7 linked regions of the Homo sapiens genome follow. The protein of the gene in region 5 interacts with the protein of the main gene of each other region in a biochemical or structural test. Each region holds a gene or a part of one and is shown on either strand. Other genes may lie near its edges.

What was found.
Region 1: of the proteins of CDH2 (region 5) and PTPRR, one has a biochemical effect on the other in vitro, tested with the Homo sapiens proteins (one large-scale study listed by IntAct).
Region 2: of the proteins of CDH2 (region 5) and PTPN7, one has a biochemical effect on the other in vitro, tested with the Homo sapiens proteins (one large-scale study listed by IntAct).
Region 3: of the proteins of CDH2 (region 5) and PTPRB, one has a biochemical effect on the other in vitro, tested with the Homo sapiens proteins (one large-scale study listed by IntAct).
Region 4: of the proteins of CDH2 (region 5) and PTPRK, one has a biochemical effect on the other in vitro, tested with the Homo sapiens proteins (one large-scale study listed by IntAct).
Region 6: of the proteins of CDH2 (region 5) and PTPRJ, one has a biochemical effect on the other in vitro, tested with the Homo sapiens proteins (one large-scale study listed by IntAct).
Region 7: of the proteins of CDH2 (region 5) and FAM20C, one has a biochemical effect on the other in vitro, tested with the Homo sapiens proteins (one large-scale study listed by IntAct).

The regions. Positions count from the first base shown.
Region 1 is NC_000012.12:70,637,091-70,641,708, forward strand, and holds the end of PTPRR (receptor-type tyrosine-protein phosphatase R isoform 1 precursor), read right to left. Parts: intron 2,583-4,618; exon of another isoform or gene 2,429-2,582; intron 2,188-2,428; coding exon 2,094-2,187; 3' UTR 989-2,093; downstream 1-988. Other genes in the region: PTPRB (receptor-type tyrosine-protein phosphatase beta), read right to left, coding at 251-305. UniProt on the Homo sapiens protein: Sequesters mitogen-activated protein kinases (MAPKs) such as MAPK1, MAPK3 and MAPK14 in the cytoplasm in an inactive form.
Region 2 is NC_000001.11:202,149,918-202,154,535, reverse strand, and holds part of PTPN7 (tyrosine-protein phosphatase non-receptor type 7), read left to right. Parts: intron 1-212; coding exon 213-350; intron 351-685; coding exon of another isoform or gene 686-700; coding exon 701-811; intron 812-1,836; coding exon 1,837-1,994; intron 1,995-4,111; coding exon 4,112-4,225; intron 4,226-4,618. UniProt on the Homo sapiens protein: Protein phosphatase that acts preferentially on tyrosine-phosphorylated MAPK1. Plays a role in the regulation of T and B-lymphocyte development and signal transduction.
Region 3 is NC_000012.12:70,626,901-70,631,518, forward strand, and holds part of PTPRB (receptor-type tyrosine-protein phosphatase beta), read right to left. Parts: intron 1-4,618. UniProt on the Homo sapiens protein: Plays an important role in blood vessel remodeling and angiogenesis. Not necessary for the initial formation of blood vessels, but is essential for their maintenance and remodeling. Can induce dephosphorylation of TEK/TIE2, CDH5/VE-cadherin and KDR/VEGFR-2.
Region 4 is NC_000006.12:128,510,218-128,514,835, reverse strand, and holds part of PTPRK (receptor-type tyrosine-protein phosphatase kappa isoform b precursor), read left to right. Parts: intron 1-4,618. UniProt on the Homo sapiens protein: Regulation of processes involving cell contact and adhesion such as growth control, tumor invasion, and metastasis. Negative regulator of EGFR signaling pathway. Forms complexes with beta-catenin and gamma-catenin/plakoglobin.
Region 5 is NC_000018.10:27,984,817-27,989,434, forward strand, and holds part of CDH2 (cadherin-2 isoform 1 preproprotein), read right to left. Parts: intron 3,851-4,618; coding exon 3,708-3,850; intron 946-3,707; coding exon 712-945; intron 418-711; coding exon 184-417; intron 1-183. UniProt on the Homo sapiens protein: Calcium-dependent cell adhesion protein; preferentially mediates homotypic cell-cell adhesion by dimerization with a CDH2 chain from another cell. Cadherins may thus contribute to the sorting of heterogeneous cell types.
Region 6 is NC_000011.10:48,164,441-48,168,448, reverse strand, and holds part of PTPRJ (receptor-type tyrosine-protein phosphatase eta isoform 1 precursor), read right to left. Parts: coding exon 3,934-4,008; intron 1,246-3,933; coding exon 1,087-1,245; 3' UTR 1-1,086. UniProt on the Homo sapiens protein: Tyrosine phosphatase which dephosphorylates or contributes to the dephosphorylation of CTNND1, FLT3, PDGFRB, MET, KDR, LYN, SRC, MAPK1, MAPK3, EGFR, TJP1, OCLN, PIK3R1 and PIK3R2. Plays a role in cell adhesion, migration, proliferation and differentiation.
Region 7 is NC_000007.14:258,092-261,911, forward strand, and holds the end of FAM20C (extracellular serine/threonine protein kinase FAM20C precursor), read left to right. Parts: intron 1-554; coding exon 555-614; intron 615-1,639; coding exon 1,640-1,889; 3' UTR 1,890-2,681; downstream 2,682-3,820. UniProt on the Homo sapiens protein: Golgi serine/threonine protein kinase that phosphorylates secretory pathway proteins within Ser-x-Glu/pSer motifs and plays a key role in biomineralization of bones and teeth.

The sequences.
Region 1 (4,618 bases), on a different chromosome or scaffold from region 5:
TCTAAATGTATCATTTCAGGGGCTGCCTGAAGCATTTGGAGGATGAGAGGAGAGCATTTATTTTCTTTTGGAGAGAAATCTCAACAGTATGGGCATAGCTGGCTCCTTTTATTCCTGCTTTTCATCGTCTTTGGCTAAACTGCCATGGAGACCTGGCCCCTTCTACCTTATTTCAGACACTTCAAAGACCAGGGACTCCTTGGCTAGATCTTGAAGAAATGCCTCAGGACACTGAGGCAGACCCACTCACCTGAGTTCCTGAAGATCAAGCAGGTAAGAATCACCATGTAAAATTCAGCCTCCATTTTCCACTTAGCAACTGTTCATGCTTCGCTTGGGGAAAAAAAAAATTCTCCCAGATAAGAGAAGCAAAGACTAGGAAGGAAATGTGCCTTCATGGTGGGGGGAAAAGTCAGTGACGAGCACTTCCTCCTATTGAATTGTTTGGGGAAGTTTTACACCAGTGTCCTTTTGTCTGTTTCCTTAGAAAGAAGGGATTATGATTACCTCTTTTTTTTAATGTAGAAAATATTCCAGCCTTCAAGAGCAGAGTAAATCTCGTTAAGACCTCACCTACCTTTCCTTTGGCATGTGACTGCTTCTTAACCTCAAGAAGAAAGAAAGGAATTGAAATCTCAGATAATTGAATGTTCCTGAAACATTACATCTCTTCAGGTGATGTGATTCTGCTGAATAAACATAAGCCATGTAATTGATGAGGGTCTATGACAAGTGATATAAAGACATAAACATGTACTGTTTGTATAATGATATGCTGCGAGTCTATTGAGGAAAACCACATAATGATGGCACTTCTAGATCATTATCTCCCAAGTGATGACAATATTACATTTTGAGATCGTCATCTTCACTGGGGAGATGCAGACACTAAAATTAAACCCATCACATTATCTACTTTGGTCTTCCCCAAACAGAGGATGGCGTCTTTCCAAATAGAAAAAAAAAAAAGAATATGCTTTACTCAGTATTTAGTATTAAGAGTTTATTGGCAGTATGAAACAAAGTCAACATTGCTGCATTAAAAATTCATATATGAGCAGAACAGCTAGTGTTTGCTGAGGGTAGTTATTTTAATTTTTTTTGTCTCTTGAAGATTGAAAGCTTTCAGAAATGTAAGGACATACATGGAAATGTCCTTATAAGGAGCCTCGAAAATGGGACAGATTATATCATTCCTGAAGGCATATACCTTTTGTTGAGAGAGAGATTCCAGGTAGATAGCATATTCAAAAATCCCTTCTTAGCAAAAGAGAGACAAGTAGTTAAAACTCTTGATACTTCAGAGTTGCTACAAATTTGTTTTTCCCTTTTAAAGTAAAATGACTCACGATGTGGAAATACAGTGGATAGAGTTCTGGAGCAGAAGCCACCTTTATGCCCAATAATAGAGAGTAAATACATATATACCCAATGACAATCATTGTGCTCTGTAATTGTTTGATAGGAGGGACTATAAATACACATTTAATAGGTAATATTATCAAGACACATTTCCATATAAAATAGTTACTGTTTTTGATTTTTGTTTTTCAAAAACAAAGACTTCTCTGTTAAAAATCCATTATCAATCACTTGCAACTTTAGCAGCAAGATTCTGGTAACTGAGAAAGGTAATAGCACTTCAAAACAGGAACAGTTTAACAGCTGACAGTCCATTCACAAGACAGATTTTGCAAACATTAAAGCATCTAACACATAATACGAATGTCTTCAGCAGCTCATCCAGTCATCACCTGATGACATTTATTACTGAATATTACATACATACATTCTGTGTGGCAGATAGAGTCAGTACAGACAAAACAAAATCTGCCTTAGGCTGTGTGATAAACCTATCATACCTCCATCATCAAAAAACCTTCAGAATAATTTGGGGGATGCTTACAAATGCATTCATATACACAAGGAGCTGGAAATCTTAAATATGTTGCCCAGTCTTCCACAATCCATGCCATACATGGGCTTCAGAGCTTCTCCTTCCTTCCATTGCAGGAAGCTCCTTCTAGAAGCCTTGGGTGGGTAATTTGATTAATCACCCCAAGAGATTGATGGTCTGACAAGTCTTCAATGACTCACTGGACAGTCTCTGCTGAAAGTCTGCTCTCATACAGGCACAGAGCATGGTGCACAAATTCATACTGCTCACTGGTTTGCACCATTCCACCTCTGCAAGGAAGAAATCATAAAATAACTGATTTTGCTAAAATCTTGCAATTTCAAGTAACACAGAGATTTCATCCAAGCTAGGGTATTATGCCAAAGACACATAGAACAGTCGACCTAGTGGTTCTTTTGTTATCCCTCTTACCTGTGTCCAAATGTCTCAACTATCAAAGTTAACATGGTAATGTATATAAAGGGCTTAACACAGTTCCCAGCACACACTAGGCACGTGATTAATTTTTACCTGTGTAACATTACTGGGGAGGTGGTACAGCCTAATGATCAAGTACTTGGATTTGGCATCAGCCAAGGTGAGTTCAAATCCCTCCTCTGCCAATTCTTAGCTGTATGCATCTTGGACAAATTCCTCGAAACCCCTTGCACTTTAGTTTCTTCCTCTGTTAAAGCAGGATAGTAACAGTAACTACTGCTGTGAAGGTTAAATAAATTCATTGTAGCTGGTATATTTGTATTACTTCTCAGGTGCCTCATGATTCATCTCTTGTTAAAATGGTTTATACATTTGGCTTAAAATTGATTGACGGAGACAAACCAAACAAAACTCATCTGCAAAATGTTGCTTTCTACAAGTAAAATGAAGTCTACCTTGGAATGGTTTATTTGAATATGTTGTACAGAAGCAACCTTAGCCTTTTGGTGTACGGGGTGTCTAAACACAATAGTGGGTGGGTCCTTAAATGAGTTGGAAAAAGGGAATTGGCTCTGCTGTGACATTTTCCTCTTGGTTATCACCATTATCATCACTAGCTGCCCAGCACCCTCCTTGTCAATGGATTCATAGAAAGCACTTGCCTTCATGAGAAATAACGGTGCTTCTCATTATGTTTTTATATACATAATACCTATATCACATTTTCCCCCTTCATAATTATGATCCTTTTTTAATTTTAGTTTTTGAGAAAACGTCTCCTTAATTGCTTAGGCTGTTGTGCAGTGGCATGATCACAGCTCAGTGCAGCCTCAACTTCCTGGGATCAAGCAATTCTCCCACCTCAGCCTCTGGTGTAGCTGGGACCACAGGCACCACCACACCTGGACAATTTTTAAATTTTTTTTTTCTTGTAGAGACAAGGCCTCACTATGTTGCCCAGGCTGGTCTCCTGGACTCAAGTGATCCTCTTGTCTTGGGCTCCCAAAGTGATGGAATCACAGGCTTGAACGACGGTGTCCAGTCCTATAATTATGATTTTTTAGCTTGACAAAGTTACCAGACATTAATATGTTACTATTCCTGCTCACTGTATAAAAGCATCACTATCGGTAACTATTTAAAGTCTTGTAAATTCTCTGTAACTCTGCAATCATGCAACTGATCTTATCTTTTAGTTTAACTCTATGTTTTAACCAGATTTTTCCAAGTGGTTGTTAGTATCATTCAAAATAACTTTCAGATTATTTAGGCACTTCAACTTAAAAACAAGATATCTTGTCTCACTGTAACAAGACTTCTAGTTAATGGTAATAATAAAAACTGGGCTTCTATGTTTATTTGTCAATCTATGTCAATATTAGAGCAGTAAAACTTCCTTGTTTTAAACTAAACAGTGATTCCCCAGGAAAATTAACATGATGTCAAAATGATGTAATTGGCAAAAAATAAAGAGGTAAATTCACAGTTTTTGGTGACAGCAACTTATTGACAGAAGTATTTAATTGGTCTTCCTCCCCTAGAGCTGTACATTTTGTTGCATTGAAGGCAACCTTCTGGGCTAAGTATTCCTTGGTCAGAAGTGAACAACAGAAATGGCCAGCTGAGAATGTGGTAATGGTTTATCTTCTTAGCTGTGTGATGACATCTGGGCTCATCTAAAATCATAGCAGGTGTTCCGAAGATGCTGGCTTGAACTGTGAAGCTTGGGAGACACCACCACAGTAAATATTAGGGTAGCTCCAGGGAGCTGAGAGGTGCCTCCCTTCCTCTGGCATTTGCACAGCTCAGGGCACCATTACTCCCTCTTGAGCTGCAGACAGTATGTGGAAGCTTCTATGTGCTCCACCTCTTAGGCTCTGGTCTGTCAGCTTCCTCTCACCATTTACCTCACTTTGAGGCAAGATTTTCCCCTTCTTGTATGTTCTGGTCAGCACTGGTATTTACATGTCCAACTGGTGAATGAATGGAGACACAGTTTAGAATTTAATAACTGTTTCACCCTAAGTGGGTCAGTGGTGTAATTTAATGGTTGGAGTATATTTACTATGACATTCTGTTCACTAAATCAAGGTTGTTTTAGCCAGTGAAAGTGGGGAAGATGGAGAAGCATACTCATTAATTGTGGGCTGGCAAAATTCTTGCAGGTCTGAAGGCTTCAGGAAAGTATATGAAAAGTTCTCTTACCTCCCACTTAATTTGGAAAATAAAAATGAAAAAAACTGGCATCAGAGGAATTCTTAGAGATCATCCATTCTAGTCACT
Region 2 (4,618 bases), on a different chromosome or scaffold from region 5:
GCCAGGAAACAGCAGAACAGGGATCTGATCCTCATTCCAGAACCCGTATCCTTTCCATCATGTGGCTTCTGAGTGTGCGTGTTCGTGCATGTGTACGTCTACACGTGTGGTTCACAGCTTCAGGCTGACCCCAGCACCTGAGGCATCTAGGATCTCCCCAGAGCTCTGCTCTCACTGCTCCCCACCCCTTCCCCTGTGCTTCCACCTTCCAGGGCTATGACGGGAAGGAGAAGGTCTACATTGCCACCCAGGGCCCCATGCCCAACACTGTGTCGGACTTCTGGGAGATGGTGTGGCAAGAGGAAGTGTCCCTCATTGTCATGCTCACTCAGCTCCGAGAGGGCAAGGAGGTAGGAGGCAGAGCCACAGTTCATGATGAACCCAGAAAGTGCTATGCCCACCCCACCCCCACCCCACACACAGGGCAGCTCAGAACCAGAGGTTTCCCTGGGAGCCAGCCCCAGCTCATACCTCTCAGAAAGTTCCCTGAGATATAGCCCTGGGAGGCTGTCTATGGCCAAAATACGGGATAGGGTGAGCACTCTGCTTGCAGGTATCAAGCTCAGAAGAGCCAGGCTCCCTGTTGCTGACCTCCCATCCAGTAGGGGTGGAGGATGGGGAGGAGATACCAGCCCCTCTCTGCTGCCCTGTCACCTGCTCCAGCTGACCCTCTTCTGACTCCCAGCTCCCTCCCTCCTAGAAATGTGTCCACTACTGGCCCACAGAAGAGGAAACCTATGGACCCTTCCAGATCCGCATCCAGGACATGAAAGAGTGCCCAGAATACACTGTGCGGCAGCTCACCATCCAGGTACCACCCCCCCGGAGCCAGGCCCAGTGGGAAGTTGGGCCGCCCACAGCATCTCTGGGACTCAGGCTGGCTCTTCACTAGGAGCCAAGGGTTTGCTCTTCTAAACCATCTTAAACCCACATCTATAGCAGAAAGAGAAACTTGAGCACTGTCCTCAGCCTCTAGTCTAATAGGGCAGAGCCAATAAGCCAAATAGGACTACCGGGAAGTACTCACCCATCTGTGTAAATGGTCAGGCGGGGACAGGCAGGATCCAGGAGCAGGGCCAAGGGAAGGAGAGGAGGTTAAAGGAGATGTGGAAGGCCAGGTGTGGCGGCTCATGCCTGTAATCCCAACACTTTGGGAGGCTGAGGGGGGCGGATCACTTGAGGTCAGGAGTTCCAGACCAGCCTGGCCAACATGGTGAAACCTTGTCTGTACTAAAAATTACAGCTGTTTGGAAGGCTAAGACAGGAGAATCACTTGAACCCAGGAGGCAGAGGTTGCAGTGAGCCAAGATTGTGCTACTGCACTCCAGCCTGGGTGACGGAGTGAGACTGTCTGTCTCAAAAAAAAACAAACAAAATAAAACAAAAAAAGAGAAAGAGATGTGGAATAACATGTACACAAGGGCTTTTAAAATGCCTTCTATTATTTTATGGTGTTTTATATTTTTGAAAGCATTCCTCTATCAACTCATTCTCCTCCAAATATCCTGGCAAGTAAACCAGTAAGATATCACTGTTCCCATTTTCCAGGTGAAGAAAATGAGATCAAGGGACTTGCCCAAAGTCATGTGCTTATGGGAAGCAGAGCCAGGGCTTGAATTTGGGTCTCTCCCCTCTCCCAGGACAATGCTCCTTCCCGGGATTTTGAAGGGGGAAGTGGTGGAGAACAATGAGCACGAAAATTGCAACCTAGCTTGCTTTGAGTAGATGACCCCCCCACAGGGTAATTCCAGCCCTTGCCCTCCTCAGGCACCAGAGAAGAAGGTAGACAGTGCCCTCCACCCTGACCTTGGTTCTCATGCCTTGTCTCCAATCCAGTACCAGGAAGAGCGCCGGTCAGTAAAGCACATCCTCTTTTCGGCCTGGCCAGACCATCAGACACCAGAATCAGCTGGGCCCCTGCTGCGCCTAGTGGCAGAGGTGGAGGAGAGCCCGGAGACAGCCGCCCACCCCGGGCCTATCGTAGTCCACTGCAGGTGCGTGGCCCTCCCTTCACTGCAGCCTGTGGACTGTGCTCCCCTCCCCTGCCCCCTGGGTCTCTCCTGGGGAAGGGTCTGAGCAGAAAAGCATCAGGCAAGCCTAGTCCTTACTCAGACATGACTCGCAAGGCCATTCAGCAAGGGCTCTGTTCTTTTTACCTCCTTCACGCAGAACCCAGACATCTGGGCTGGACACCCAGGCCCCATCCATAGAGGGGATGGAATATCAGGAAGATCCCAGTCAGCTGCAGGAGGACATAAACAGGATTCCAGCTGTTGGGGAACTCATTTACTTATTCAACAAATATGTATTGAAAATCCTATTATTGGCCGGGCACGGTGGTTCACACCTATAATCCCAGCACTTTGGGACGCCAGGGCTGGCAGATCACCTGAGGTCAGGAGTTTGAGACCAGCCTGGCCAACATGGTGAAAACCTGTCTCTACTAAAAAATACAAAAATTAGCCAGGCGTGGTAGCACACACTTGTAATCCCAGCTACTTGGGAGGCTGAGGCAGGAGAATTGCTCAAACTCTGGAGGCAGTGAGCCGAGATCACACCACTGCACTCCAGCCTGGGTGACAGAGCGAGACTCCATCTCAAAAAAGGAAAACCTATTTTTGTCAGGCACGGTGTTAGCTGCTAAGGAGACAGCTATGAACCAAGCAGTTTGGTTTCTTCCCAGACAGTTTTATAGGCTGGTGGGAAAGAAGGCAGATTAGGCTGGGTGCAGTGGCTCATGCTTATAATCTCAGCACTTTGGGAGGCTGAGGCGGGAGGATCACCTGAGGTCGGGAGTTCAAGACCAGCCTGACCAACATGGAGAAACCCTGTCTCTACTAAAAATACAAAATTAGCCACACATGGTGGCGCATGCCTGTAATCCCAGTTACTCGGGAGGCTGAGGCAGGAGAATTGCTTGAACCCAGGAGGTGGAGGTTGTGGTGAGCTGAGATCGCACCATGGCATTCCAGGTTGGGCAACAAGAGCAAAACTCTGTCTCAAAAAAAAATTAAATACCACGCAATGTGATGAGAGCTGTGATGGGGATATTATGGGGACCATAGAACCAAGTCTCCTAAACCAGACTTTGACCAGAGAAAGTTTTCCAAGAGAAAGGCCATCTAAGCCAAGCTAAGACCTGAAAGGTGAATTAGCCAAGTGAAGAGAGGGAAGGGAACACGTTCCAGGCAAGTGGAAGAGCACATGCTAAGGCCCAGAGAAGAAATGTGAAAATGGATACACTGCTGGGAGCAGGGTTACAGGTTAGGCCCAGAGGTTGTGTGTGGGGTAATGATGAGAGATGGGTTTGGAAGGCCAGTGAAGGTCAGATGATGAGGGGACTTGGAGGACTGGCTAAGACACTTGGATTTGCCATTTTAAAAGAACACTTTGGCTATAGAGTGAAAAATGGATTGGGCCAGAGTGAGGGGGTGTCGTAGGGGACAAGACTAAAGAAAGGGACCATTTGGGAGTGCATATCCTAAATAAAACAGAGCACAGAGGCAAAAGGCATGACACAGGGGCCTCCCAGCCCACCCACAGGTAGCACTGGGACATGTGCAGGGAGGTCATTAGGGGCTCACGCAAGAGGAAGGGGAGGCCTAGGGGGTTTTGAAATAAAGAGAGGGCACGATAGAGAAAGCAGAACAGAGTGGAGAGAAGACTGTGGGAGGGCGCCAAGGTGGGAAACAGAGGGGCCGGGCGTGGGCTGCGTGGAAGATGAGTCTGAGCTGAGAGGAAGTCAAGGTTAGATAAGGAGGGCTCGAGGGTCAGCACACCCACAAGTGGGAAACTGTCTGTTGGAAACCACTGTAGACTCAGCAGAAGGGAGATCGTCAAAATGTCCACAGGGACCAAAAGGTGGCCTGCAACAGGCTTACAGTAAGGCTGGTAAGAAATGTAAACTCCTCCCATGCCAATTAAAACCTGCCTCCAGCAGGGCCCCCAAGGGGACTGGAAAGCAGAGTACTGCTACCTGCCTCCATCTCCAGAGCCCTATCCCCAAAATATAGCACCTGCAGGTCCCATTTCTTTCTCCATAGTTTGGGGCCTGGCTCTCATATTCCCTGGTCTCCCATGACCTCCCTGTCCCCTCCCTGGCTATCTCCAGTGCAGGGATTGGCCGGACGGGCTGCTTCATCGCCACGCGAATTGGCTGTCAACAGCTGAAAGCCCGAGGAGAAGTGGACATTCTGGGTATTGTGTGCCAACTGCGGCTAGACAGGTGGGTCTGTGGGTGTAAACAAGGCCAACAACGTTAACGGATGGCATCAGTGCCTCTGGGCCCCAGAGTTCTGCTAGGCCCATCACCATCAAGCACTCCTGCAAGAAAGGAAGAAACCCTTTCTGCTTAGAGCTGTTTATTTTACAACTAACAACCAGGAAAAAATATCTATCTGGATGGCCGGGTGCGGTGGCTCACACCTGTAATCCCAGCACTTTGGGAGGCTGAGGCGGGTGGATCACCTGAGCCCAGGAGTTCGAGACCAGCCTGGCCAACATGGTGTAAACCCTGTCTCTACTAAAAATACAAAAATTAGCCAGGCCTGGTGCGGGCCCCTGTGATCCCAGCTACTCAGGAGGCTGAGGCAGGACAATTGCTTGAACCCAGGAGGTG
Region 3 (4,618 bases), on a different chromosome or scaffold from region 5:
ATAAAGAGTGCACCTAAAATACATATCTAAATTACTTTTAAAAGACCCATGATTAGAAAGAAAGTAAAATTAATAAATGGAAATTGATACAAGACATAGCATAGTAAAACACTAAAGCATAGCACAGGGAATAAATTAGACTAAAAAAATAATTGAAAGGCTAACTAAATCAAAGAAATACATTTCAATAGCCAACTATTACTCAACGATTCTACTATGCATGGCATTATGAAGATGTGCCTGTTTTACCTAACACCCTATGTTTTCTTTAGGAGAAAAGACTGAAATAGTAGGGTGGAAGGAAGGCATGCTGGGTGGAGGAGGAAGAATGGCTCCAAAGTTCAGGGCTATCAGGCTATAGGAGAGAGGTGTTGAACCAGAGACTAAACAGAGTCAGGGAAAGGGGAGCTGGAAAGGGGGTGAATAACTTGGCGTGCGCAGGACTGACTTGTCCATTAGACGCAATAGGCACAGTGATTAGGGCCCATGATAATTTTAGGGCAACACAATGATTTAATTTGTTTGAAAATAAAAAAGAAACTTTAGAGTCAAAGAAAATGTTTTAACTTTTTCATAGATTAGGAAAAATGACAATTTTAGGCTACATGAAAATCTATTATTTTACTTTTCTTTTTTTCAGCAGAGGAAAGGGACCATAGAGGCAAAAGAACCCAGGGCCCATGAAAGTCATACATAGCCCTGTGTGTGCCCTGATAAGTTCAGTGACATGTCACAGGCTGAATATGGTTGGGGAATGCTGGATGCTATACCTGCTATCTTCAATGATCATATAAATCATATATCAATAATCATTGATAACATTATTTTCAGACATTATATTTAAAAATGGTCCACTACAAGGCCCATGTTGTTACAATGATGCAAGAAGAAAAACCCTAAAATGACCGTGACAGCCAATTTAGTACAAGTAGGGTTTGTATACACAAAAGGCACTTTCTGTTTTGTTTTGTTTTTCCCCACAAGCTCTTCGTATTCACAAGTACTTCTGCCGGCCAGTAAAGCCAACAACTTCTACGAAAACTTTTTTCCCAAGGGTGTATATGATTGCTTATCTTTTACAATGTTCACACATTTTATTCCCTCTCCCAAATCACTACAACTAAACAATTACTTTAACCAGCAGTTAAATCGAGCCTGCCAACAATATGGTTTAGTTCATCAGCAAAATCTCTTTTAGGGATTTTACCGGTTCGGCCATATCAGGGACACTTGAAAATTTGCCTACAAATATTTGCCTGCTTTCCAGTGCAGCCCTTGGAATTAAAAAAGAAAATTCCTGCCCTCAGATAAAGGTGAGATTTGAATGAATGAATCTGAATTGAGTGGTAAATAAATGAATAAATGCTGATTGGTTGGCTGACATTCTATATTCAGTGTTACTTTCTTCACAGAATGAAATGTCTGAGTGAAAAATAACAATTTTAGACAATTGACTAGCTTTTTATAAATGTAAGGAGACTTGACATTCCTTCGAAAAGTTATCCAAACCATGGATGGAGTTCTGCACCCTTCACCTGAAAGTTCTGGAATGACATAGGCATGGCCTATCGGCCCATGGATTTGCGTGAATGTTTTTGAAACCAGTTTTGAGTTTATAATGTTTTAATTTCCCCCTGGCAAGGAATATTTGCTTAGATCTAGTAGCAAACCAGTAATTTCCTTTGAGTAAATTTCCCTGTTTCTGTACAGGCCAAGGCATGAGAAATTTTCCCCATCTGATAGATTCATAAAACTTCAATAACTGGGTCACTGTAAGCTTTGTTGTCTGCTTGGGGCCAGTGCTATTTCTTGCTGGAATAGATGCAACTGTAACTTTTTTTTCTTTTACAGATAGGGTCTTGCTGTGTTGCCCAGGCTGGTCTTGAACTCCTGGCATCAAGCAATTCTCCCACCTTGGCCTCCCAGAGTGCTGGGGTTATAGGCATGAGCCACTGTGCCTGGTCAACTGTAACATTTGATTGCTTGGTGAGTTTAAAAATTATACTTGGATTGCACAGAAGACAAAAGCAATAATTTATGATGCCATACACTAACTATTCATGGCATTCCTGAAAGTAGTCCTTAAAGCTTTATTATTCCTTTTTCCTTTACTGTTCTGACAGTAAACACTTTGCACAAAGTTGAAACATTTATTAATTTATTCAGGAAGAAGAAGTGGTTAGTAATAATGGTGCTAGCTAAACTATTAATATGATAAACTCTTGTGTGCCCCCAAAAGACTGTTTAAAAATATGCAACTTTAAAATTACCCTTGAAACATTTTTTTAAAGAATGACTGCGTACTCCTCAGCAAATGTAAAAGAAGAGAAATCACAACAAACTGCCTCTCAGACCACAGTGCAATCAAATTAAAACTCAGCATTAAAAAATTCACTCAAAACCGCACAACTACATGGTAACTAAACAAGCTGCTCCTGAATGACTACTGGGTAAATAACAAAATGAAGGCAGAAATAAAGATGTTCTTTGAAACCAATGAGAACAAAGACACAATGTACAGAATCTCTGGGACACATTTAAAGCAGCGTACAGAGGGAAATTTATAGCACTAAATGCCCACAAGAGAAAGCATGAAAGATCTAAAATTGACAACCTAACATCACAATTAAAAGAACTAGAGAAACAACAGCAAACAAATTCAAAAGCTAGCAGAAGGTAAGAAATAACTAAGATCAGAGCAGAACTGAAAGAGATAGAGACACAAAAAACCCTTCAAAATATCAGTGAATCCAGGAGCTGTTATTTTGAAAACATCAACAAACTACATAAGACTGCTAACAAGACTAATAAAGAAGAAAACAGAGAAGAATCAAATAGATGCAATAAAAAATGATAAAGGGATATCACCACCGATCCCACAGAAATACAAACTACCATCAGAGAATATTATAAACACCTCTATGCAAATAAAACAGAAAATCTAGAAGAAATGGATACATTCCTGGACTCATAATGTGTCCAAGACTAAACCAGGAAGAAGTGGAATCTCTGAATAGACCAATAACAGGTTCTGAAATTGAGGCAATAATTAATAGCCTACCAACCAAAAAAAGTCCAGGACCAGATGGATTCACAGCCGAATTCTACCAGAGGTACAAAGAGGAGCTTGTACCATTCCTTCTGAAACTTTTCCAATCAACAGAAAAAGAGGGAATCCTCATCCTGATACCAAAGCCTGGCAGAGACACAACAAAAAAAGAGAATTTTAGACCAATATCCCTGATGAACATCAATGCAAAAATCCTCAATAAAATACTGGCAAACCGAATCCAGCAGCATATCAAAAAGCTTATCCACCACAACCAAGTCAGCTTCATCCCTGGGATGCAAGGCTGGTTCAACATATGCAAATCAATAAATGTAATCCATCACATAAACAGAACCAACAACAAAAACCACATGATTATCTCAATAGATGCAGAAAAAGCCTTTGACAAAATCCAACAGCCCTTCACGCTAAAAACTCTCAATAAACTAGGTATTGATGGAACAGATCTCAAAATAATAAGAGCTATTTATGATAAACCCACAGCCAATATCATACTGAATGGGCAAAAACTGGAAGCATTCCCTTTGAAAACCGGCATAAGACAAGGATGCCCTCTCTCACCACTCCTATTCGACATAGTGTTGGGAGTTCTGGCCAGGGCAATCAGGCAAGAGAAAGAAATAAAGGGTATTCGATTAGGAAAAGAGGAAATCAAATTGTCCCTGTTTGCAGATGACATGATTGTATATTTAGAAAATCCCATAGTCTCAGCTTTGGGCTGAAATTTTGGATCTCCTTAAGCTGTTAAGCAATTTCAGCAAAGTCTCAGGATACAAAATCAATGTGCAAAAATCACAAGCATTACTACACACCAATAACAGACAGAGAGCCAAGTCATGAATGAACTCCCATTCACAATTGCTACAAAGAGAATAAAATACCTAGGAATCCAACTTACAAGGGATGTGAAGGACCTCTTCAAGGAGAACTACAAACCACTGCTCAACGAAATAAAAGAGGACACAAACACATGGAAGAACATTCCATGCTCATGGATAGGAAGAATCAATATCGTGAAAATGGCCATACTGCCCAAGGTAATTTATAGATTCAATGCCATTCCCATCAAGCTACCAATGACTTTCTTCACAGAATTGGAAAAAACTACTTTAAAGTTCATATGGAACCAAAAAAGAGCCCACATAGCCAAGACAATCCTAAGCAAAAAGAACAAAGCTGGAGGCATCACACTACCTGACTTCAAACCATACTACAAGGCTACAGTAACCAAAACAGCATGGTACTGGTACCAAAACAGAGATATAGACCAATGGAACCGAACAGAGCCCTCAGAAATAATACCGCACATCTACAACCATCTGATCTTTGACAAACCTGACAAAAACAAGCAATGGGGAAAGGATTCCCTATTTAATAAATGGAGCTGGGAAAACTGGCTAGCCATATGTAGAAAGCTGAAACTGGATCCCTTCCTTACACCTTATACAAAAATCAATTCAAGATGGATTAAAGACTTAAATGTTAGACCTAAAACCATAAAAACCCTAGAAGAAAACCTAGGCAATACCATTCAGGACATAGGCATGG
Region 4 (4,618 bases), on a different chromosome or scaffold from region 5:
TTTTTTTTAGATTGTTGAGGTTCTGGGAAAACACTGGGCCTGGGATCTAAGGATCACATTGATCCTCTCGTGGAACATTGCCATTTCCCCACTTAACTCTGGTTGAAATTTTTGGCATTCTCCTTCGTGTGTTGATAATCCATAAAAATTACAAGTGGCTTATTTTGTCACTTACAGTTGTTTTAGGATCAAATTAAGTTGTCCTAAATGGAATAATCCGTGTTTCCACTTGATATGATTATTGAGCTCTGATAATGAAAATGATGAACAGGGCAGTGCTGGCTGAATCCTCCAACAGGTGTCATTCTAGGAATTGTTTTAATAAGGGGAATTCAGAAACAAGGCAAAATAAAATAGTGCGTAGTGGAGTTATTGTTTGTATTTATTTTGTTGGGAAATGTGAAAGATGTAAGTATGTAGTCCTCTGTGTGAATACACACACACACACACACACACACACACACATCTTAACAATGCTAGGACTTAGTTGTAGAAACATTTAGGTTAGAAAGAAGGTAAGGGCATCTAGAGATGGTATCAAAACTCCATACTTAACATTTTTGGAAAGAGTAGTGAAAATAGATCACTACTTTATTTCATAGATGTAGAAACAAGTGGAAAATAAGCTGTATATAATCTATACTGTATACTATACTATACTGTTATACTTTTAAGGATAAAATAATAAATCTTTCTCCAGATTGGTATCTATTAATATAAACCCTTCCCAGTGCAGCCTGTTCCTTAACCAGCTGCTCATAGGCCGATTCTCCAAGCGCTGTTCAAGGCAGCAGCTGACCAGCCACAGAAATTCCCTTAATCCGTGTTGGATAGTGGAGGTGACCTAGCAGCTGCTTAAGTGACAGACTGGCAACAGTTCCTTGATGTGATTTTTCTTAGGTCATTCAGTAAATTCAAGAGTAGAGAGGAAGGCTTTCTAGGGTCCTCACTACCCACCCAGGGATTGATGACTGATTGCTTCATGGTCATTGGATTCCTCACTGCAAGGTGTCCTGGGATTTTGTGGTTCATGGACCAATATAATTAGCATCATCTGGAAATTTGTGATGATCTGTGATCATCAGAGTCACCCCAGATCTACTGAATCAGAATCTGCATTTTGATGAAATCCCCAGGTGATTTGATGGAACATTTAATTCTGGGAAACACTGCTCTAGGACAAAGAAAGCTCAGTTTAAAAAGATTGTCACATGAACTTTACCATAGAATTTCAAGAATATTGCAAAAGGATTAATGATAACCTGAAATACATTTCCTTGGATTTATATTTCTTTTTCCTTTCTTTTTCTTTTTCTTTATTTCTTTCTTTCTTTCTTTCTTTTTTTTTTTTTGGAGATGGAGTCTTGCCCTGTCACCCAAGCTGGAGTGCAGTGGCACGATCTCGGCTCACTGAAACTTCTGCCTCCTGGGTTCAAGAGATTCTCCTGCTTCAGGCTTCCAAGTAGCTGGGATTACAGGTGCGCCACCATGCCCAGCTAATTTTTGTATTTTTAGTCAAGATGGGGTTTTACCATGTTGCCCAGGCTGGTCACGAACTCCTGAGCTGAAGTGATATTCCTGTTTTAGCCTTCTAAAATGCTGGGATTACAGGTGTGAGCCACCATGCCCGGCCCCTGGAGTATATTTCTGATCAATATTTACTTGATTATTATTTAATATTCCAGACACATCAAAACAACAGTACTATACAAGCTTTTTAAAAGAATGCTCAGATGACTTTGAAAAAAAATATTTTCATAAGAGACTAAAAGTAAGACTAGTTTTGGTTATGAATATTTTGTATAAGAATATTTAAAGATAAACATACTCTTCAAGGAACCAAACATGCTATATGCAAATCATTTTTAGCATAATGTTATGTTGATACAGGAAATACTATTCCCTCTGACATTACTAGTAGCAGTCTCTTGCTTTATAATTCTCTTTTTCATCTAAGTGTAATTTAAGATCTTTGTAGTAAGGAGCTCATTTATAGGACAGTCAAATTTAATGAATGGGAGTTGGTAGGTAGAATGCATTAAATATAACTGGTGTTCTTTTTATTATCTTTTGTGCTCATATTTAAGAACAGAGATTCTTGTCAGTTTTCTCAAGAGAAAAATTATGATGTAATAGACAGTGTACACTATTCATGTCAAAACACAATTTTACTTGCATTTTATAGCTTGCTTTAGCATTCTTTTAGAAAATGAATTTTCCCAGAAGACCTAATTGCCTTCTTATTAATGAGCCTGTAAGTGTTTTTTGTTATCCATTTACTATTCTAAATGTGTCTACTTGTGCTAGCTGTTTCAACAGTGTTGTCTCTGATTAAATCACAACTGCTATATTTGTTTTTGCCATTCACTAGTGATTCAGAAAATATTGGCATAATGACGTGGTTATGGCAGAGACTAATAAAAAACAAGAAGTAAAAATTAATGTTCACCCATTACAGTTGGCTGTATCATGAGATCAGAAGCTGGAGTTTGGGATAATAGCAACGTTCTCTATATTTTTGATACTGTAAATAAAAGTCTGCATAACCTATATTGTCTTAAATATAAAATATATAATTTATTGAATTAATGAACTGTAAATCAGTGTATTTCCATATGTACTTAATTTAGACACTAATGTTTAAAGAAAGATTTAATAGGAGACTGATCACTGTTAGAGGAGAAGTAGTGGTGGAGAGACTCTGAGAGGGCACTTTCGTATATCTTCAAGAACTTCACAGTTACTTTTTCTAGTTTGACTCCAAATTCTGGAACTTGTCTTTTTTACTAGTACTGCTTTTATTCTTATGAGCAATAATTAGGTTCATTTATTTTCTTATATGTTGGAGAAGAGAGCTTTTCCTAAAGCAATTGCAAAAATAACAATATGAGCTGTAATTTACTGAGAGCCCATGACCTGCTAGGGCCTGTGATCAGTGTTTTACATAATTTTAAATCCTCACAATATCCTTTAAGATGAGGATCATCTCCATTTTACAAACTAAGGCCTCGAGGGGTTAAGTAATAACTTGTCCCAAGTGGCTATATGAGTCACTGGTAGAGTCAAGATTCGTTAATGAATGTACACAAATGTTTAAAGATTAGACATTTCTTTGGTTGCATCTTGGCAGAAAATGTAACCCAGACTGGTTGCAACAAAAGGTGAATTTATTTGTCTCTCCTAACTACAGTTCAGGTGGAGCTTGATTTAGAAGTTGACGTAATTCCACTGAGACATGATGTTTCTCTGCCTGCTTAGTTTAGTTCTAGGGTATTCCAGGAGCTTCTTAGGCTCCATATAGAGGCACGATGGCTGTGGCAGCTCCCACCGAACAAGATCCCAGGTTCAAGTCCCTTAAGGAAATGTGAATTATCTGCTGGTTGCACCTGATAAGGCTCTAAGGTTTACAGTGCTTGAATCCACTGATCTTGTTTCCAACCATTGAATCTAAGGCTCTGACTGAGGGGAAGTTAGTGTGCTGATTGGCTTGGCCCAGGGTTTGTAATCTTTCTAATGGGGAAGAAAGAAGATGGGAGATGATGGGGAAGAGACAGTAGGATCAGATTGTTCTCTGTTGTGGACCACTAGGTGATCTCTAAGTGGGAAAGCGTGGAAGAGAAAGAGAGGAAAGAGGCAATTTGTGTCTGGCAGGCTTGTATACATTTACAGATCACCTGTTTTTAATCTGAGAGTGTTTATTTATTGGCTTTCCCTTTAAGGACTACTTTAAAGCATGAATTTATATTATTTCCATTATTTTATTTTCCTTGTCTCAGTATTGAATTAGTCTAACATTAAAAATTTGTAGAATTTGGTGTTAAAAAAGATCTTAGAAATTAATGACCCCTTCATTTGACGTAAGTTGCCCAAAGTCATACAGGTAGGAAGAACTTGAGCTCAAATTAAAGATTTTAATGTATAGGTTAGTGTTCTTACTATATATGTATCATATATTAATGTATACTATATATATATCATTTTCCTTAACAGTAATCTATATAATTATTATTTAAGATTAAAAAATTTTTGGCTTGTATTCCAAATTTCTGAAACAATATTTCCAAATATAAACCTGACTTAGTGATTGGATTTGATTAGAATAGTAGTCTGCATATAAGGTGATAATATGTCTGTGAATGCAAGAGACTATCTTAGATAACTGCTTGGTTTTCAGATATCATGACAGAATTTATACATGTATGCATGTATAGGTGTTTGCATGTATGCATTTATTTATTTTTAATAGAAAGCAAAGGGTAAAGTAAGCTGTGGTAAATGATATTGACACAGACAAAACCTACTAACTCTACTATTTTTGAAAACCTCAAGAGATGATGGTGATTTTATTTTTAATTTTGATCCTCTAACCTCTGCTGCCTAAATTTATTATGTATATCTGAGCAACATGGGATATTAGGAAGAGTTGCTATAAGAAATATCTTGGGGTACTGAATAATGAATAAAATGTAGAGAAGTAGCAGCTGTTTGCCTAGCTACCTCCTCTCCTAATGAGAGATTTACCCAGGCTGTCTTAATCACATGTTAGTGCTAGTGGATTTGACTGAGGACCATGGCTGTGCCAGTTGAGGCCAGGGGATAGTCTCCAGGCACTTTAATG
Region 5 (4,618 bases):
AACAATGCTCTGGGGTTTTTTCATTCTAAAGTGGACTTGGTCGACCCATATATGATTGGCGAGGAAATGCTGAAAGGTCAAAGGGTTGTTAGACTACTTTGCCAGGCAATAGCAACACATGACTTTGCTGAACATCCTAGAAGCCAAGAGAACTGAAATCTAAAAGACAATAAAAGTACTCACTAAGCAGGATGATGATGCAGAGCAGGATGGCAATGATGGCACCGGTGCCAAGCCCCGCACCCACAATCCTGTCCACATCTGTGCAGTCCCCGTTGGAGTCACACTGGCAAACCTTCACACGCAGGATGGAAATATTTGATTTGGGAGGATTACCCGAATCTGTGATTATGATGGGAACTTCATAGATACCAGCTTCAAGAAATTTTATCTTTAAATTAAGCTGAGCAAAATCACCTATATGAAAAAGGAAAAACATAGTTTGATAGGTAATACTTAAAGCGATAAAAAAACACATAGCATTGTTCAGGATGTATTTACTACCTAATAGTACACATAAAGCGGATTACAACTATGCTGCATTCTAAATACTTTTTTGGCCGTAAAGGCCTTTAATATCTTACTTAAACTTTAAGTAGCTTTTAAAATATGTATAATGAGAAGATTATGAAGCACATAAAATTAACTTTTCATGCCAGGCTTCAAAATCTCTCAACTGCACATATATTCAAATAATTAACCTGTTCTTACCATTAAGCCGAGTGATGGTCCAATTTCTCTTAATAGTCACTGGAGATAAAGGAAGATCAAAAGCAAATGGTCCAGCATTTGGATCAATGTCATAATCAAGTGCTGTAATATTAATTGAATTGGGGTCTGGAGTTTCGCAAGTCTCTGCCTCTTGAGGTAACACTTGAGGGGCATTGTCATTAATATCAAGTAAATAGATCTGCAGCGTTCCTGTTCCACTCATAGGAGGAATTCCTGAAAAGAGAGAAAAATCACAAATGATGCTGAACAGTTCTCTCCAATGAGCCTCAATTATGGTGAAATTCTCAAAGCTTCTAACCTTCTGGCCCTTTTAACTGTGTAACCTTGGAAAAACATAGTTGCTATGGCATCTGGGCAGACCGTTTCCAGAACAAAGCCCCTTCTTGCTTCCCTGCTAGAATGACCCTGAGCTGCCACTGCTGCTCTGCAGGAGCTGAGCAAGGTGACGAAGAATGCCCCTGTGATGGAATCCCGTACCCTCCCTGCCCCTCCTGCCCATTATTCAGGGCTTGCGTAGACCATGCTCCTCCAGGCACTGTGAGGAGTGTTGGAGATGCAAACACAGGGCTCGTGATCCTGTTGACACTATTCTTTTTATGGAGAACCAAGACATATGCATGAAAGAACATAAGAATGCTTTTAACGCTCTAACACAGCTTTGACTTAACGCAACAGTCTACAGACAAGTGATACAGAACCACAGACCTCAACTCAGGAAGGAACATCATGCAGAAGAGAAATGATATTTACTAACCAACCAACTACCTGCTTGAGATCATATTAGGCTGCTCTATGTACACTCTTTGATTGTAATCCTATGACACAGGTTTACACAGATGAACCTGAGTCTGTAAACTGCTCATGGCCACACACTCTTGTAAGTGGTGGAGTTGCTACTAAATATTGGTCGGCCTGACCTCAAACCCATTCTCATTCCACTATAATAAAATGCTGTCTCCACCACTTTGTGTGATAATTTAATCTGGTGATTTGCTTCTGCTACATTGTAAATATTCACACACACACAAATATATAATATGTTTATGAATATTTTATAAATAATGCTGTACACTGAAGACCAGAGACTTAAGCGACCTGCCAAAGGTCATGCAACTAGGAAGGTGCACATACATACACAATCCTGGGGAGGGAATAAGGAGGAATGTTTACCAACTTCTATGAGGAATATGATGGTTCTAAGAGCAGGGAGAGTTGAACTGGAAGGGTATAGTGGCTGTTACAATATTCCAACACCACCATGACCACTATGATACTCAACAGTTTGAGGGACTTCGAAATTTACTATCACATTTAATATTACTATACTTTTATAACAACTATATAGAATATGTAGGTAGTGAAACAATTTATCAATAATGAAACTAAGGCATACAGAGTATAAGAGCTTGACTAATCATTAACGAACAGAGCTGGGGCTCCAAGTCTAGCCTTGTGGCTTAAAGGAAAGTGCAATTGCAAAGCATCACAGCTACATACATTATAACAGGTCACTTCTCTCTCTTATCAAAAGCCCTTTCAATTAGAAAACAATCCTTCCTGGTGAATGAGAAATCTGGTTGTAACTCACAACCAATATACATACATACATACATACATATAATTTTATGGCTCTTTAGATCTTAACATAATGATTCAAGATGCATTACTTTCAGTACCACTGTAGAAGAAAGCCACGGTTTATGGCAAAAAAGCATAAAACAGGTACTAATGACATGCTTTGATGTACAATGGCAAAAGCTATTCCTACAAAGTTCCAACACTAAATATTTAAACAAGAGGTCCCATATTAAAAAGGATAAGAAATATTTCTTTGGTTGGTCACTACATAGATTTTCTACAGATAGTAATCTCATTAAATCTTAGTATACAGATTTAGAAAGGTTCACTGACATTATTCTTAAAGTATTGATATGTCTTATTTTAGTAATGCAAAATATTTTACAATTTGAAAATTGCAAACACCAACTTCAACCACCAAATTGAAGCCTGCTATTTTTTATTAAGTACCAACATTCATATTCATAGTTTAATACTGAAAATATTTTAAAATATAGTTGTGGTTCAGTTTTGAAACTATTAATACGCAATAGGAATACTTAGTTGAGTGGTTAGTTCGTGTCAGCCACTGTTTCAAATGCTTCATATATATGTAGAAGTCATTACATTTTAGTTAAAACACTGAGTTAGGTGCTGATACGTATCTATTTAACAAAAAAAGGAAACAGATATATTTAAAACCTCATGGCAATCCCACAGATTCAAAGTGGGAAAGCCGGAGTCTGCACCTGGGGGTCCTGTAGAACTCCAGAGCTTGAAGTCTGAAACACACATCGTACTGAGAGCTAACGAAGCAAAATAAGCCCCTCATCAGGTTTACAAAAGTCCCCTTTATATTACATATCTGAAAAAAGTCCTTATCTATTAATCTTAACCAATGAGAAACCAGCAGAGACTCAGAAAGGAAAAAAAGGTGCTACATATGTATTCTAAAACCCATACCCTGAAGCTCACTACTCACTTATCTCAATTTATGCACAAAATTAAGTTTCCTAGCCCATGGCAGACAGAGGCAGAGAATTATAAAAAGGAAGACTGATAGAGATGCACATATGAAAGGCAACAGAGTGACTAGAAGACATATAAAAAGAGCCACTGAAAAAACCCAGTGTCTAGGGCCACTGAGGATGGACTTAAGGCATCAACATGTGACAGGACAATAAGATAACAAAGGTATGTCTACATGAACGATGGATGGACATCGAGAACAGTCATTGCAAAGACAGTGAAGGATGTTCCAGAACACCTGTCTGAAATGATAAATAAAAGCTGGACCTCGGAATTATAAAAGTCAGTTTTCCAGGCAATTGAGTTTTGTAGAAAACTTTAATTCCTGAGCATGCATGATGAGGATCTACTGTCTTTCATCAACATACAAGAAAAAACAGCGAACATACCATTGTCAGAAGCAAGGAAAGTAGCATTATATATATTGTTTTTCACATTTGGTGATTCTCGGTCCAAAACAGCAATTGTAGTTATTTGTCCATTCACAGGATCTATTTTTAGCCAATTGGCAGGATCAGATAATTTAGTGTATCTACAAAATGAAAGTGAAGTTTAATTTCTTTTTATGAAACTTTAAAAAAACATATTTTACAGGTTTAGTTCCAAATGCAACTGGCTCATTAACTTGCATTTCTGTAGATGATGGCTGGACATACAGCTTTAACAGGAAAAAGTATTTTTGTGACAGTGGTATTGGGAGGCACATAAAGGTTGTGTTTGGTCAGGCATGTAGGAAACATTCTACAGGTGTCTGAGGGACAAGACTAGGTGCACAGTCTCCCTAATGTGGGCTAAAGCAGATTGGAAAGTTATCATTTTAGGTTCTTGTCCACTTCAACAGATATCAATGGTTCAGGTAAAATAGCTTGAATATAGTTTCTAGATAAGCAGTAGTCTCAATGTACAGGAGTTAAGAGAAATTATAATAGAAATTGAATACTGCATCACAGAACACTCCTAAAACATTTTAACACTTTATCATGGCCAACATGAAGCCACACTGGAGAGACCACCATAATCCCATTCCTACTTGAATCTTTCACACTGGGCCAAGCCTCAGATCTATACCTTTGCAAAGAAAGTCCTACAGTCTTGAGTCTGAATTGGCAGATTTATCAGCTTAAATTCCTTTTTAAAATTTGGAGTGGGGATTAACTTTTAAAGATTAGATAACCAGTTGGATTGGAAAAGGTATGCTATGTTTGGAAAGGTACAAGTTGTAGGATTTCAATACATCTATTAACTGGCTATTTATTAATAGTTATCTTGATTTCAGTGAATAGAGAAATGGAGAACATTT
Region 6 (4,008 bases), on a different chromosome or scaffold from region 5:
CACGCTGAAGTGTTCACAGATTGCCACGCTTCTGAACATACACACACACATACAGACACAGACACATAAAATGCCAACCTGAGTAAAACGTTACTAAAAACCTAGAACATCATGAATCACTAATTCACATATTGCACCTTTAAATAATCCTTCATACCAAATACAGACATGAGAAAAAGGATAATACAGGGACAAGAAAAGGATTTCTGCCACTGTAGGATTCCTCTGCTTCTCCCATTCCCACCCACAGAAATTCTCAAGGTGATATTTGAGTCGCCATTCTCACCCAACCAATGGGTTGAAAATGTTGCCAACAGAAGAGTCTTTGGAGAAAACTGGGAGGGAAAAGGGAAGAAAAAATGGAGCACAAATGTACAGGGGGCAGGGGAAGCGGAGTCGGGGCAAAGAGGCCTCCCCTGATCAAATGAGAACAGAAATGTTACTGAGGAAGCAAACCTCTGATGCTAAGCTACTGTTTAAATATTCCGTATATTCCAATTATGAGATTCAGTACAAAAATATAGATCTCTACTGAGTTTTGCCTGTGGAAGCATAATTCAGAAAAGGCACATGTTCAAATAGAAAACCCATTCGGAAGAGGTGCCACGTACCCCTCCCTGCGCAATCATCATCCACAATTAGGTATTTTCCATCGGCTAGATTCCAAGACACAGTAGGTAAAAATAGACCTCTGATACTTAAAATATATTCAACCCAACACAATCCTGGCTTTAGCATGTGAATCATATAAAATAGTCTTTTTTAAAAAAGAAATTGTTTTGGAAAAAAAAATCATAGCTCCCTTTTCCTGGTTTTCCACAATCCTCAAGGGGGAAAAAAAAAAAAAGTGACCTCATCCCATTGGTCATCAGGAATGCAGATGATTTGCTCCCCACCCATCCACAGCCCCCGACAGCCCCAATTTGTCATCTATCATATGCAGCTTCATGCCCTCAAAATTAGTTCTCACAAAACAGAACAAAGAATTAAGATATTAGACATATAAAAACATGTCGACATCGGGGCATGTGCCTTCGCTGTGGGTGCGACGGTCTGGTTCACTCCAGAAAGGTTATTCCTTTGGAATTAGGCGATGTAACCATTGGTCTTTCCAAATGTGGTCACGGGCGCAAGGTTTTCATAGATTGTCATTGCAGTTGTGTTCTGGTAGATAAGATCTACTTTTGAGTCTTTCTGGGATCTGACAATATCCAAAACACACTGATTGAGGAAAACATACTGGTCCTGATAGAAAAACGAAAGAGAGAGACAGAAAATGAACATGGGTCCCAGAAATTAGCACCCAAAATTATTTTCAAACAGGTCATTCCCCCGCCCAACTCCCAAACCCCATCCACCCAACAGCAAACGGTTCAAGCGAACATGTTTCAAGAGGTAACAACATTGCAGTGAAATCTGAAATCACAGAAGCAAGATGTCCTTCCTCAATGATTCTCAACCAGAAGAGCACACTCCACACCTCCCCTCCCCAAGGAAAAATGCCACAGTCTCAGGGAAGGGCAAAGGAAGGAGGAAATGTAGAGGAAAAAATGCACACACACATTCGAACAATCAAATGTCCAACAAGATTGCCTTGGCTAGTGAGACTGTACAGAGTAAGAATCAACTGTAATGCTCAACCGAGGAGCGAGGTTAAAAGGAGATGATCAGGTGGAGCTGGATGAGGACTATCCTTCAGGTAGGTATATCAGAATCTGTGGATAGTGATGAAGAAAAGAGGAAACAAGGGTATAAGCTGACACAGAAAAATATCCATGATATTATAAGAGGAGAAAAAAAATCACAGAGAAGCAACATACATAAAACAGGATCTGGCCAGGCGCGGTGGCTCCTGTCTGTAATCCCAGCACTTTGGGGAGGCCAAGACAGGTAGATCGGCTCAGGTTAGGAGTGCGAGATCAGCCTGGCCAACATGGTGAAACCCCGTCTCTACTAAAAATACAAAAATTTGCTGGGCGTGGTGGCACACACCTGTAATCCCAGCTACTCAGGAGGCTGAGGCAGGAGAATCGCTGGAACCCAGGAGGTTGAGGTTTCAGTGAGCTGAGATGGCACCACTGCACTCCAGCCTGGGCAACAGAGCAAGACTCCATCTCAAAAAAAAAACAGCATCCAATTTTTTCAAAGTACTGTGTGTGCGTGTGTGTGTGTGTGTGTTTACAGATGTACATAAAGAGTCTTATAAAGATGTACACCAAACTATAAACATTGGCTACCTCCAGGAAGCAGGATTGGGGAAGGAAGAGTAAGAGAAAAATATATTGAGGCCAGGCACGGTGGCTCACACCTGTAATCCCAGCAATTTGGGAGGCCGAGGCGGGCGGATCATGAGGTCAGGAGATCGAGACCATCCTGGCCAACATGGTGAAACCCCATCTCTACTAAAATACAAAAAAAAAATTAGCTGGGCATGGTGGCACACGCCTGTAGTCCCAGCTACTTGGGAGGCTGAGGCAGGGGAATCGCTTGAACCCAGGAGGCAGAGGTTGCAGTGAGCCGAGATCGCACCACTGCAATCCAGCCCGGTGACAGAGCAAGTCTCCGTCTCAAAAAAAAAAAAAAGAGGAGAGAAAAATATATTGTCAAATGCTTTCATATGAATAAGTATTGTTTTCAAAATATAAAAAAGAGATTAGACTCTAGTAGCAGGGATAAGAGTTCTATGTTTCTCAAAAAAGGATAAAAGATTGAGAAATACTACTTTATATAATTATAGCAGAAAAAAGAAAATCTCTCTTTTGACCAACACAGGAGTTGAATTTCACTCTTTCCACAACAACCACCAAGCTCACCCCAGAGCACGCAATGTACCCAGGCATCTAGAACATTCCCTGCTAGACTCAAAAACACAGCACATATTCATAGAGTTCTAAATCGGTACAGGACGATAGCCTGATACAAAATTAATATTCTGCTCTCATCCTGGTCAAGGAACATTCACCCCTTTGAGGAAAGCAACTTTGCAATATGTTCTGTTGAAAACATGCCTCAAAAACACTTCTCAGTAACAGTTTGGGTAAAACCAAATCCAGCAGTAGTACAGAAACTATACCATAGATATTAAGTGTTCCTTTTCTCCGCTGGTCAGCCACCCTTCTGTAGCTATGATAATTGATAGTCTTTAAAATGTACAAGTCTGGGTGAGGATAAATTGCTGTATTAACATTTAAGCAGCATTATGATATGTCACATCATTAATGTTTGATGAGTTTGTTTCATTAGCTTATTTTAAAGATGGTCAGACCTTCTTAGAAACAAAGACTGGAAAATACCAGTTTTATGAGTTTAAAACCTGGAAGCCAAAGTTCAAAGATGTCCTAAGATTATTTAATGAGTCAGAGGCAGCAAGGTAAAGAATCCTGACACTATCTCAGTAGTAGTTCCATTACTGACATCAGTACTACTATGTCACTTGTATTGGGTAATTTAATTCCAAGTCAGCTTAAAGTCTGCAAAGAAATCCAGTGTTAGTTCACAGCCAAGAGCTGGAAAGATCTGGAAGGGTGACATATTTTAACACAAGTGCATGACACAATGCAACCTTTTAAAAATGGAGGGGAAGGGCCAGGCAAAGTGGCTCATGCCTGTAATCCCAGCACTTCGGGACACTGAGGCAGGCAGATCACTTGAGGTCAGGAGTTCGAGACCAGCCTGGCCAACATGGAGAAACACCGTCTCTACTAAAATTACAAAAATTAGCTGGGCATGGTGTGCGTGCCTGTAATCCCAGCTACTTGGGAGGCAGAGGCAGGAGAATCACTTGAACCCAGGAGGCAGAGGTTGCAGTGAGCCAAGATCATGCCACTGCACTCCAGCCTGGGCGACAGAGCAAGACTCCGTCTCAAAAAAAAAAAAAAAAAAAAAAAAAATGGAGGGGAAGGGTGGAATGTCAAATACAGATCTTGGCCTCACCTCTGTCTGCACCATTAAAGGCCTATGCATTCGAAGGTCATACACAATCCCATACACATCCACGGTGTTCTCATT
Region 7 (3,820 bases), on a different chromosome or scaffold from region 5:
GGTGGACCCACTGCCCGGGGTGTTGGAGATAGGCGGGGTGGACCCACTGACTGGGGTGCTGGAGATAGGCAGGGTGGACCCACTGCCTGAGGTGCTGGAGATAGGCAGGGTGGACCCACTGACTGGGGTGCTGGAGATGGGTGGGGTGGACCCACTGCCTGAGGTGCTGGAGATAGGCAGGGTGGACCCACTGCCTGGGGTGCTGGAGATGGGTGGGATGGACCCACTGCCCGGGGTGCTGGAGATGGGCAGGGTGGACCCACTGCCTGAGGTGCTGGAGATGGGCAGGGTGGACCCACTGCCCGGGATGCTGGAGATGGGTGGGGTGGACCCACTGCCTGGGGTGCTGGAGATGGGTGGGATGGACCCACTGCCTGGGGTGCTGGAGATGGGTGGGATGGACCCACTGCCCGGGGTGCTGGAGATGGGCTGGGTGGACCCACTGCCTGGGGTGTCGGGTACAGGCAGGTGGACCCATGGCCCAGCTCCCAGCCCAGCAGCCTGTTAGGAACCTTGTACAGGGGCCCTTGACAATTCTGCTTTTCTTCTGGAAGGTTTGGGAAGTATTCGCACGACGAGCTCTCCATCCTGGTGCCGCTACAGCAGTGCTGCAGGTACAGCCCCTGCCGGAGCCGGCTCCAGCTCCACCCTCCTCCCTACTGCGCAGGAGACAGAGGAGGCCACAGCCTTCCCCACCCCACCCCGGCCATCACATGGGAGAGAAAAGGCCCCGAATTCAACCACAGCCCTGAATTCAACCCACACCCTCACTCGGCGGCCTGGAGGCGCAGACCTCACCCGCCCACCACCCCAGGCCCATCCAGCTCGAGCCCCCTCGGGCCTCCACTCTGTGTCCGTCCTGCCACCCCAGTTACAGAGAGAGCTCGAGGCCAGGGCAGACGCCAGCTGAGACACAGGGACCCTGCTCCCGCACGCAGCTGCCGGTCTCTGCCACTGCCACCTTCTGCGGGGGTTCAGACCCCCTTTCCCCCGTTTCATGGCTGGGGACGCAGGCTTGCAGGGCAAACGCTTTGTACTTCTCTAAGGAGGCATCACAGCGCCCGTGTTGTGCGGATGTGCTGAGCTGGGGTCGGTCTCCTGGGTGAGTGGGCCGCCCTCCTCACCTCCCCATCCTCCTGGGTGAGCGGGCCGCCCTCCTCACCTCCCCATCCTCCTGCCGGGCCCCTCTGGGAAATACACCGGCCACCACATCCTGCAAGGGCACCCTCATCCCTTGTGCAGGTGAGAGGCGGCAGACCACGCCGAAGCAGGTCACACAGCCCGGAGGCTGATGAGGTGTTGGATCGCAGGCCCCTCTCTCGCGGTCTCTCTCGTCTCTGCCGTCTCTATCTGTGTCTGTCTCTGTCTCTCTCTCTGTCTCGGTCTGCCTGTTTCTCTTTATCTGTGTCTCTTTCTGTCTGTCTGTCTCTGTCTGTCTGCCTTTCTCTCTCCCTCTCTTTCTCTCTGTGTCTCTCTTTCTCTGTGTATGTCTCTGTCTTTTTCTCTCTGTCTCTGTCCCCCTCTTTCTCTCTCTGTCTCTCCCCCCACTCTCTCGATCTCCCTCTCACTTTCTCTCGCTTTCCCGTGGGCAGGCATCTCCCCTGTCCCGTGCCAGGCCTGATGCCCCTCTCCTCCCCAGGATCCGGAAGTCCACCTACCTGCGTCTGCAGCTCCTGGCCAAGGAGGAGTACAAGCTGAGCCTGCTGATGGCCGAGTCTCTGCGGGGGGACCAGGTGGCACCCGTGCTGTACCAGCCGCACCTGGAGGCCCTGGACCGGCGGCTCCGCGTCGTGCTAAAGGCCGTCCGGGACTGCGTGGAGAGGAACGGGCTCCACAGCGTGGTGGATGACGACCTGGACACTGAGCACAGAGCCGCCTCGGCGAGGTAGTGTCCGCCGGCCGCTGCGCTGCCCGGGACGGAGACAGAGGCGCCGGACCTCCCAGCAAGCGCATGCGCCCGTCGTGAATTCAGTGAATTCAGAGGCAGGACGGGATCATCCGGAGTCGGGAGCTGCTGCCACAGGAGGCGAGGCTCCCCAGGTCTCATAGGACACATTTTGTCAGTGTTTGACCAGAAAAGCTTGGGAAGGAAGCGCTGTCTGTGCTCACGGACAGAGGCGGCCGGCGCCGGAGGCATTCCATCCTTTCTGTAGGGAAAGGAGCCTTTATTTACTATTTTGTATTTATATTTGATGAATAAGTATATAAACAGAGACGTGTACACAGATGCCAATCACCTACCAAACCAAACACGAGGACCGCCCTCCCTGGTTCTGGGGGCCCCTCAAGGCCAAGCTCACCCCTCAAGTGCTCTCACACTCGGGACCTAATTCAAGTAAAAACCCTTTCTCCTTCCTGGGGCCTCGGCTCCTGGAGGGCTGGAGGGTCTCGTCTGAGGACGGGAGGAGGCTCTCGCTGGACGTCTGGCCTGTGCGCTGGTGGACGGATGCCTACGTGGTTTTGGAGGACCCGATGACCAGGCGTCCTGCGAGTCCGCCCGCTGGCCTGCAGCACCCACCTCGGACTTGGCTGTGGACGGTTGGTGCAAGTGCATCCTGCAGGGCTGGCTGTGCGCAGCTGTGGGCTGACCTTTGCAGAGTTTTGTGGAATAGTTTGCAATGTCATAAAAGTGCAATAAAGGTACAGCAGATGTGTGTCGGCCTCACGGGGCGGGTCCCTCACACCCTGGTGTGTGGCTGCCTGTCCACCCCCTCTCCAAAGAAAAACCAGTCCTGGAACCAGGCATGGCCAGGAGTCGGCATTCAAGGTGGCCTGGACCCGAGGCCTGCTGGGGTCGGAGGGGGCTGCCTGCCAAGCCCTGGTGCAAACAGGCCAGGTGGGGCCCCACCTCCAAGGCAGGGCGGTCCGTCCTGGGTTGCTCTCAGAGGCTGGGGCCGCGACCCAAAGCTGCGGCGGCCCCGAGGGCAGCCCCTGTCTGTAGCCCTGGCATGGGCAGCTTCCAGTGTTCCAGCAGGACTGGGCAGCCATGCGTGGGGCAGCTGCCCCGGGGCTGTGGTGAGTGAGGGGCACCGTGAAGGGTGCCAGCCCCTTCCCACTGCTGGCCTCGGGGCTGCAGAGATGGGGCTGGGCTCCCAGGCCAGCATCTCCCCTGCTGGCACCATGTGAGGGGCAGAGGCAGGAGCCAGCATGCTGGCTACCACCTGCCCAGCGTCACACGGCCCAGGAGCCCTAAGAAATCAGCTGTGGGGCCGGTCACTGTGGCCCCCTCTTCTAAGAGCCTCTGCATCCACTCACCTGTCCGTTCCACAAAGTCCCTGACACCCATTTGAGCTGTGCCAGGCTGGGTGCAGCGGGGCCTGAGAGACTCAGCTCTGTCCTCATCACCGCCGCCTTGCAGAGCAGCGGGAGACGCACAGTAAATGCACAGATGGGTCACAAACAGGGCCCTGCACATGGCAAGGAAGTCGGCAAGGGCAGAGGATGCGCCAGGCAGACATTGCGTGTGGGGCAGCCAGGGAGGTGCTGTGGCCCCTTCATCCACTGGCTGGAGCCGGCCCCCCCATGTCTCTCTCTGTTTGGGACTGAACCAAAAGAGGTGATTAAGTGGCGGGAGGGTTCGGGTGGTCCCGGTCCAATCTGACAAGAGCCCTTATGAGGAGAGGAGACACAGGGACGGCCCCGTGAGGACACGGAGAGGATGACATCCACGAGCCACAGAGAGGCCTGGAGGAACCAGCCCTGCCGTGCAGTGACCTCGGACTCCAGCCTCTGGGACTGTCTGTGGTTGAAGCCACCCCATCTGTCCATGGTGCTGTCACGGCATCCTGAGCGGACTCATGCAGGCAGCCTCCAGGAGGGG